Regions from separate parts of the Homo sapiens genome. Here all the other regions are linked to region 3. The links come from fine-mapping of genetic effects on gene expression. A gene starts in region 3. Each other region holds a variant in brackets. All regions are shown on one strand. Distances are from middle to middle.

Region 1 (2,761 bases), 590 kb before region 3:
CAAATTTTGAAAATTTCGAGTATAGCCATTTAGCTACAGTATCATAAACCATGGCAAGCAAAGCTGCAGTTACTAAGGGCTTCCTACCCATTCACACGTGAGAGGGCAAACTGACCCCACCCTCATTCCGCTGATCTCAGTGACATCTGACCCTCTGCTCTGGAACTTCCAGGACTGAGACCAAGGTTGGCATTCAAGGCGCTACTAAGAGTAGGTTGTCCTCAAGGCTTCTGAAGTCTGGCCCCTACTTACTTCCTCTCCTATGCCTCACTCCAGCCAAATGCACCTTCCCAATATGTCCCTAAACCATTCCTTGACTCACTCTTTCTTCTTCCTAGATTTCCCTGACATTGTCACATGTCCAGATCCTTCAAGGTGAACTACAATAATAAAAACAGCCAGTAATTCGAGCACTTGCTATGTGCCTAAGTATACGTTCAGAGATTTTGAAGCAGCAAACACTTACTGAATGACATATATATTAAGTCCTTTGCATCCATTTCCGTTTAATCTACACAACCATCGTCTAAGGTCCACCTCAGGAAAATGAGTGACAGAGTTTACTAACTTGCCCAACGTCCCCCACCTAGGAAGGACTGAATCCATAGTATGAACTGGGCAGTTCATCATCAGAATCACGTTCTTCTTTACAACACTATATGGGGTTCTGGACAGTCGATTGGTACACTGTAAACAATTGTTGTCAAGGAAAAAGGCTATAAACACCTCAAAAAGTTAAGCATAGAATTACCGTATGACCCAGCAATTCCACTCCTGGGTATATATCCAAGAGAAATGAAAGCACCTGTCCACATAGAAATGTGTACGCTAGTGTTCATAGCAACATTATTCACAATAGCCAAAAGGTGGTAACAACACAAATGTCCATCAACAGAGGAATGGAGAAACAAATTGGGGAATAGTCAGACAATGGAATACTATCCAGCTATCAAAAGGAATTAAGTAACGATAGATACTACAGCATGAATGAACCTTGAAAGCATCCTACAATGGCCCTGTCACTATAGGATGTTGATCAGGGAAGCTGTGCATATGTGGGGCTGGGGGATATATGGGAAACCTCTGTACCTTTTGCTCAATTTTGCTCTGAACAGAAAACTGCTCTAAAAAAATAAAGTCTATTTTTTTCAAGTTGCTGTATGAGTTTGCTAGG[GC/G]TGCCATAACAAAGTACCACAGGCTGGGTGGCTTAAACAACAAATTCATTTCTTCGTGATTCTGGAGACTAGACATCCAAAGCAAAGTGTTGGCAGTGTTGGTTTCTTCTGAGGTCTTTCCCCTTGGCTTGCGGATGGCCACTTTCTCCCTGTGTCCTCACGGGGTCTTCCCACTGTGTGTGTCTGTGTCCTAATCTCCTCTTCTTACAAGAGCCATCAATCAGGTCGGATTAGGGATCACCCTAATGACCTCAATTTAATTACTAAAGACTCTGCCTCCAAACACAGAAAACTTCTGGGGTACTGGAAGTTAGGACTTCAACATATGCCCATAACAGTCATATATTATATGATTTCTTTTCCATGAAATGTGCAGAATAGGCAAATCCATAGAGACAGAAAGCAGACTAGTGATCACCGGGGCAGAGGAGGAGAGTGAGCACCAAATGAATCAGGGTTTCCTTTGGGGGTGATGAAAATGTTCTGAAACTAGAAAGAGCTAATGGTTACACAGCATGATGAATCATAAGCTGTACATGGTTAATTGTATGATATGTGAACTTCACCTCAATAAAAACAGGTTAGAAAGAAAGGGGCTTCTCTGAGATTCCCATTCTTCCCCCTCCCCCGAGCCACAGTACAAGGTCTCTATGCCTCTTCACCCAGGGTAAAGCCCGGGGCACTGAGAGACCATGGGCCTGGAGTTGTCCTAAGTATGACATAAGATTAAGTCAAGTTTGCCAAAGACAGAAGGAAGAAAATGGCCCCAATTTCAGGAGGATATAAATGAAACCAAAGCTCTGAGCAGAATATCAATCCAAAGAACCAACTGCTGTGTGTCTGAGACTGGCCAGGTATGAAGTTTATTCCTGTGTTCTGGGCCCCTTGCCAGCACTTTCTGTGAAGGCTTTGTAAATGCATCAGGCTGGCCTCACGCTCCATCCTTTGTTCTCTAAAAGGGAAACTGTTTCCCAGATTTTGCCTCAAGGTGGGGAGTCAGAAAGATGAGGGGTGCGACTACACGAGGAACATGAGCAGACTCTATTAATGCCTCCCTGGGGCCGCAGCCAGGGCCCTGCCTCCTCTGGGGCCTCAGTGGGGTTCCATGTGGTCCTGGGTCTCCTTGACCCCAGTGCCTCCCACAGGACATGGAGGTGTTTGCTTTTTCACCTGTCTGCCACTCCGCACTGGGAGGCCCTGGAGTGCAGGGACAGTGTCTCATTCTATCTTGGACCCCTGGTGACCAGAACAGGGCCTGCAACAGAAGAAATGCTCAACTAAAGTCCGAGGAAGGAAGAGAAGGTGGAAGAAAGAAAAGAAGGACGGCATTTGATAGGAAGCAGATGGCATGATTAGAAATAATTCATGTGATCTTGGGTTCCACTCATCCCAGGCCTGGCTCCCAGGTGACCCAGGGACCTGACTCCTCTCCACCAAGGGGAGCTAAGGCCATGATGTGCTGAGAGCCTTCAAGAAGCAGGAGGGCAGAAAGGTCCGTTCCTGGTGTCATTTTGCCATCTCCAAGTTCATGAACCTGATTTGCTACATCAGACACATCAGACACTCCATCTCCCTCCTCCAACAGC
Region 2 (2,761 bases), 34 kb before region 3:
AGCGCCTGGGTTTCTGCTCATCACAGTTAGTGTAAGGATCCATTTACTCATCTGCCTCTCCCGCCCTCTTCCCTTCTCTCCCCTCCTCTCCCCTCCTTTCCCCTTCTTCTCCTCTCCTTCCCTCCCCTCCCCTCTCTGAGGAACTTGGTCCAGCTACAGTCAATATCTAGAGAAGGTATTGGCCTAGAGAACCTTGCTCAATCTTAAGCCCGCACACCTGCCGTACTTTGGGATCACCCCGGGAACCTTAACATGCTGATGCCTGTGTTCTTATCTTCAGAGACTCTGGTTTGATTGGCCTGGATGTGGCCTAGGCATGGGGTGAAGAGTGTGGGTTGAAAAGCTCCCCGGGTGGTTCAAGGTGCAGCCCAGGTGGAGCGCCACCATAATTTACAGCACACGACTCAAGACCCACCCAGCCACTTAGAGGAGCTGCACTCCAGGCACCTCGGGGAGTATAACCTTGAACTCGGAACCCCACTATATTTGCCATATTTGTTGTGTTGAAAGAAAACTAGTCATCTGTTTATCTGAGTCAGTAGCATTGAGCAGCTGTATAGTCCCCCACAGGCCCCACCCAGTCTTCCGTGCTTGTTAGGAGAGACGGAAGCATCACAGTCACCTGGTAGAAGGATGCCTGTCTGAGCCCCACCCCAAATCCAAGGAGCCAGACCAGGGACCCTGTGCTATAAACAAGTCTCCTGGTGATCCTTCTGCACACAAATGTGCCAGGGCTCAAAACATCCTAAAACAGGCTGCAAACCCCTGACGCCTTGCAGAGCCAGGTAGGAAAGTTCAAAGCAAAGAAAGGCCTCCAGGGGACCATGCGGGGACTGGAAAACGACTGGCTCTAGCAAATTCTTGTCCTTTGGGAATGTGGGCCCCATGTTGTCAAGTCCCTCTTTTTTAAAAAGAGAATGCCAAAAATCTGAATTTTTAAAAAGGTGAAACTTGTTTAAAGCTGACAACTAATTCAAGCCATTTAAGTACACAGCTCAGACCAAACAAAACTTACCTGGGACCTGAATTTAGCATCTATTACCAATGTTTGCGGCAAACCCCACACGTGGATGAAGCTAGAGGGTGGTGTGCTTGCCTGGCCTTGTCTCGGCTCTCTCTTTTTTGAGCTGTTTTCCTGCTATGGGACTTGGGCCAGCACGGAGTAGGAGTGGGGAGGCGGTGGGGAGCGGGTACAGGAAACGGCCCCTGAGACTTGTGCCGTACGTGCAATTGGGAGGCTGTTTGGGGACATTGTTCCTCACGTTTAACAGTGTTCTCTTCATGCCAACTCTCTAAAAAAATACCTCTCAGGTCTCAGGGCCTAATAGAGTTTTGATTTGCCTCAGCAATGGTGTGCCAGTGTCTTATGGACACTGAATTGCGTGGGATCAAGTTTTAGCTGCTAGAAAGGTCAGAGGGCAATTTGTGGCCTGTCCCCATGGCATATAGGACCTCAAGGTCCACACTTGTATACCTGTCATTCCTGGGTGCTTCTGACCTTTCCAACTTCTGTTTTTC[G/A]TTTGATGCTTGTCACATGACCACTCCTGTAAAATTTTATGCTTGTATATCAAATAAAGAAGTTAAGTGCTTTCTGAAATAAGGCATGCTATAAATAAATAAGCCCATAAAAATAGTAAGTGCTGAAAAAAAGGGTTATTGAATACATGACTACTTGAATGATTCATTTTGTGGTTGCACACAGGGCCTTGCACAGAGCAGGTGTTCAGGAAATGAGGGCAGGATGGTAGAGTGGAAAGCAGCAGTTTAGAGATGGAAAGACAATAGCCCTGCCATTTCCTAGCGACTGGGACCTTAGCCAAGCTGACTAACCTCTCTTAGCCTCAGTTTCCTCGTCTGTACAATGGGGACAATCTCAGTGCCACCTTATCAGAGTTGCTGGGAGGATTGAGTAAGATGATGTAAAGTGCCTAGCATGTAACAGGCACTTAATAAGTGGCAGCTGTGATTATTTCAACACCAGAAATACCCTCATCTATGAATGTCATTGTTAAATGACTTAGTAAAGGCAGTAATGTGTGCAACATGAGTGAGGACGCTCTCCCTTTGCTCAAGCCAGCTAGAGTGTGACAGAGAAACCACATGGATTCACTGGGTCAATAAAATGGGGAGGCCTTCCAGAAGCTCTCGATTCCCTCAGCTCCTTGTCCCAGGTCTCTGCTCCCCTCCACACCAGGGCCCCTCTGATTATAGCAGTGATGGCAGGTGGCTCCCTGTCTGAGTGTGGCTGCCCCATCACTCCCCTCTCAGCATGCTTATGTGCTAAAGACCCTGTCCTGTCTGCCCCCGTCATCCAATCTCTAGCCCTAGCCCTGTACATTCCCTTTCTGGAAGCCTCTGGCAGTTTTCTGCAAGCTTCCCAGCCCTGACTGATCCCTCTCCTGGTCATCACTTAAGTGAGCAAATTCATCTTTGAACGGTTCCTTGACCTTTTGCTTGACAGATGCACGCATGCTTTAGAAAGCACACGTCATGCAGTGCACAGGAGGTGCACTCAGAGATGACTGAATGTAGTGTCTGGGGCTCACTCCCTCTGAGGGTTGGACACCAGGCAGACAGTCAGGAAAGCAACTCTCTAATACTGTTACGAGGGAGAAAATACATCATATAGATCCCTGCGATGGAAGGTGGTCTATGGTGAGTTGTAGGTTTCCCTAAGGGCCTAAAATTTATTCATAAGAGGCACTGTTGCATAGGGCAGTGGTTCTCAAAGTGTAGCTCCAGACCTGGAGCATCAGCCTAG
Region 3 (2,749 bases):
CTCATTTGTAAAATAGGATCATAATAGTATCCACCCCTCTAAGTTGTGCTGAGGACCCAAGGGCAGAGCATTTGGCACACAGTAGGTGCATAATTGCTTAAAGAGGGATGTCCACAATAGTACTGATATCATGCCTTTCTGGGTTGTTAATATTTTAAGTATCATTAAATACACAAATATATATCGATCTCTTTGTCCCCTCCAAAAGGGTTCCCAGCAAACGGTCTGAGGTGATGAGCAATGCTGTGGAAGGAGAGATATTCGTCTAACAGTTTGTCATTCACCAAGAGGTTTATATTTGTTATTATAAGGACTTTTGTGATTATTATTCATTGGGCTTCATTAACAATTCTATGACACAGAAAACAGCTTTACAGACAAGCGAGCTGCGGCTTAGGGACATTAGCAGAGCACCAGACCACACAGTGAGACAGTGGCCTCACAGCCTCGAGGCTCTCCTCGGTGTGGATGGCTTTCCCCTGTGGGAGCTGATGCCTTTCTGTGGCTTCCTCTCCTTCCACCACAGCCAGAGGGGCAGTGTCAGGGAGTGTGAGAAAAGGGTGTGGAAACTGAGGCCCAGAGAAGAAAAGTCACCGCCTGAAGTCACAGGCTCCTCTGCCCCTCACCTCCCATCAGGGGTCCCTCCCTGGCACCCACTTTCTGCCCACCCTCCGCTCCTCCATCACCTCACCTCGGGTTCTCAGAGAGACAGCCTGCACAGCAGAGAGCCCTGGGCTCCTTTGGGTCCTGGCAGACGGTGGGAGGGCACCCAAAGGGAAACTCATTCTCATCAGGGGCCGGGCGAGGACTGCTGCCTGAGCTGGAGGCCATCTCAGGGTTCCAGGCTGGCCAGAGGGCCTGTTTAAGTTGCTCCAGGGCAGGGGACCAGCCTTGTGGAGTCCTGGCCTGGGCCTCACTCTCTGGTGAGTAGGAGCTCTGATGACTTTATCTTCTTCTCTCTGGCTTGTGTGGTTCAACGTCACAGCTGAGTCACAGCAGGGATGGAGCAGGAATTACCCTTTGTGGCGATAAAAATCCCCTGGATGGTGACTGAAGGCTTTAGGAGTGTCCAGTCATTTTTTTTTTTTTTTAGAGTGAGAAAAAGCAAGAGAGCAAGTCAGAGAAAATGACCCGTGTCACAGACTCTCAGAAAGCACAGTGAGAGTTCCCCTGGTTGAGAATCGCAGGCTGCCGCTGGCTTCCCCCACTTCCCTGGGCACATCGGAGGAGGGGGCCACAGCTGGTCCCTGGTCTGTGTTCCCTGGCACCTCTGAGCAGCCTGGAATTCTCAGTGGGGGTGCTCACCTTCCTGGTGGAAATCCCCAGGGTGTTGGAGACAGGTCCAAAATTTCAAGTTCTAGGCGCTTTTGCTCTGCTCTGTTTGGAGTGTCTGGGTGACCTCAAGGAGAAGTCACTTCCTCACAGTGGGTTCTGATGACTCCATCTGTAAAAAAGAAGTTGCAACAGGTGGCCTCTGGGCTGTAAGATTCTGGGACCCTATCTTGCCTGGGACTGAGGCAACCAGAAGGAGCAGGAAAGCCCTGATGAAATCCAAGGCCTAGGACCACAGACTCCTCAGGGCCCTCCCCACACCACCCCACTCAGGAAGTCATAGGTGGCTACATGCTCCGGTCAGGTGCCACCACTTTACTGCCTCAAGGAGAACAAAGCGCTAAACAAATGCAAGATCACAGCAGCTGGTCTCAGCATCCAAGTGGGATGTAGATCCACATTTGCAGGAAAAGTGCACTGGGGAAACGATGGCTCCCAGAATGTGTACTGTGTGCTGGGCAACAGTTTCCCTCCAAATCCTTACAGCAACCTGCAAGGAATTCTTCTGCAGCTGTATATAGGGTCAGAGAAGCAAGATGCCTGGTCCAAAGGCACACAGCCTCTGGTAGTGGAGTGGGATTCACACCAGGGCTGTGGGGCCCCAAGCTCTGTGTGCTTGGGATGGAGATCAGAGTACCCAGCTCTTGTCTCATCTATCAAATGGAGAAGACAATCCCTACACATCTTTCCATCCTGCTTGGCTGCTACAGAGGTTTTGCAAACTTTCACAGTGGTTTCAGATCATGGGTTTTGAGGTCAGACAGAGCTGAGTTGAAATCCTGGGTCCACTGCTTACTAACTGTGGGCCCTGGGACAAAGTCCTTAACTTCCCTGAAACTCAGATTCTGCATCTGTAAAATGGGACAATAATACCTATTTCACCCATTTGTTGTGATGACTAAATGAGATAGTGGGTCAAAGTGTGGTGTGTAACCCAAGTGAAGTACTTGAATGACATTTGGCTCAGATGGTGACTACAGGCCTTCCAGCTCCTCAGAGAAAAGGATTAAAGTGGTGCATTATGCTTATACTGTGCTTTCACGTCTATCTACTGGAGCCTCAACAGGTGGGCAGGGCAGGTCATCTGGCCTGAGATACATTAAACTGCCCACCTGCCCTGGTGTAACACCAGGGCTGCCACAGGCTGGTGGCAAAGACAGCACGGCATCTTACCGCCACAATGTACATCAGGACCTCCACCCCCATAACAAACGACCTCCAGGCCTGCATCAAGACTATCAGAAGACACTCCCTTTTAACTGTGTACCCCATACCTGCAAGCTTTCCTGCAGCCAGCCCTACCTGTTCCCTCCTTCCCCTGGTTTGGGATAAAACAGGCACCCAAGACTTCTCTCCCCATCTGTGGGTCCCTTCTCTCCCCTCCGGCCTCAATACCACCCTCTCTACCTGCTCATTC

The links. PIP is the estimated chance that this variant, and not a neighbour inherited with it, causes the effect.
Region 1: its variant is the best candidate, but not a certain one, in a credible set for the expression of TRAF1 in cerebellar hemisphere (GTEx, PIP 0.63).
Region 2: its variant is the best candidate, but not a certain one, in a credible set for the expression of TRAF1 in whole blood (TOPMed, PIP 0.62).

What each region holds. Positions count from the first base shown.
Region 1 is chr9:120,334,548-120,337,308 of GRCh38, forward strand. All of the region lies in intron 2 of LOC105376253 (a long non-coding RNA gene), which reads right to left. Among named protein-coding and RNA genes, the nearest start is that of MIR147A, 91 kb to the left of the region's middle. The variant GC/G (reference allele first, on the strand shown) is at 1,175.
Region 2 is chr9:120,891,174-120,893,934 of GRCh38, forward strand. It overlaps a transcript of PHF19 not described here. Among named protein-coding and RNA genes, the nearest start is that of PHF19, 15 kb to the left of the region's middle. RefSeq lists an enhancer at 1,448-1,667. The variant G/A (reference allele first, on the strand shown) is at 1,519.
Region 3 is chr9:120,925,245-120,927,993 of GRCh38, forward strand. TRAF1 (TNF receptor associated factor 1) reads right to left here and starts at 1,552. Exons shown (of 8, transcript NM_005658.5): 1 at 1,306-1,552; 2 at 692-1,057. The coding sequence starts at 831. RefSeq lists enhancers at 181-704, 301-370, 831-1,170, 1,511-1,830.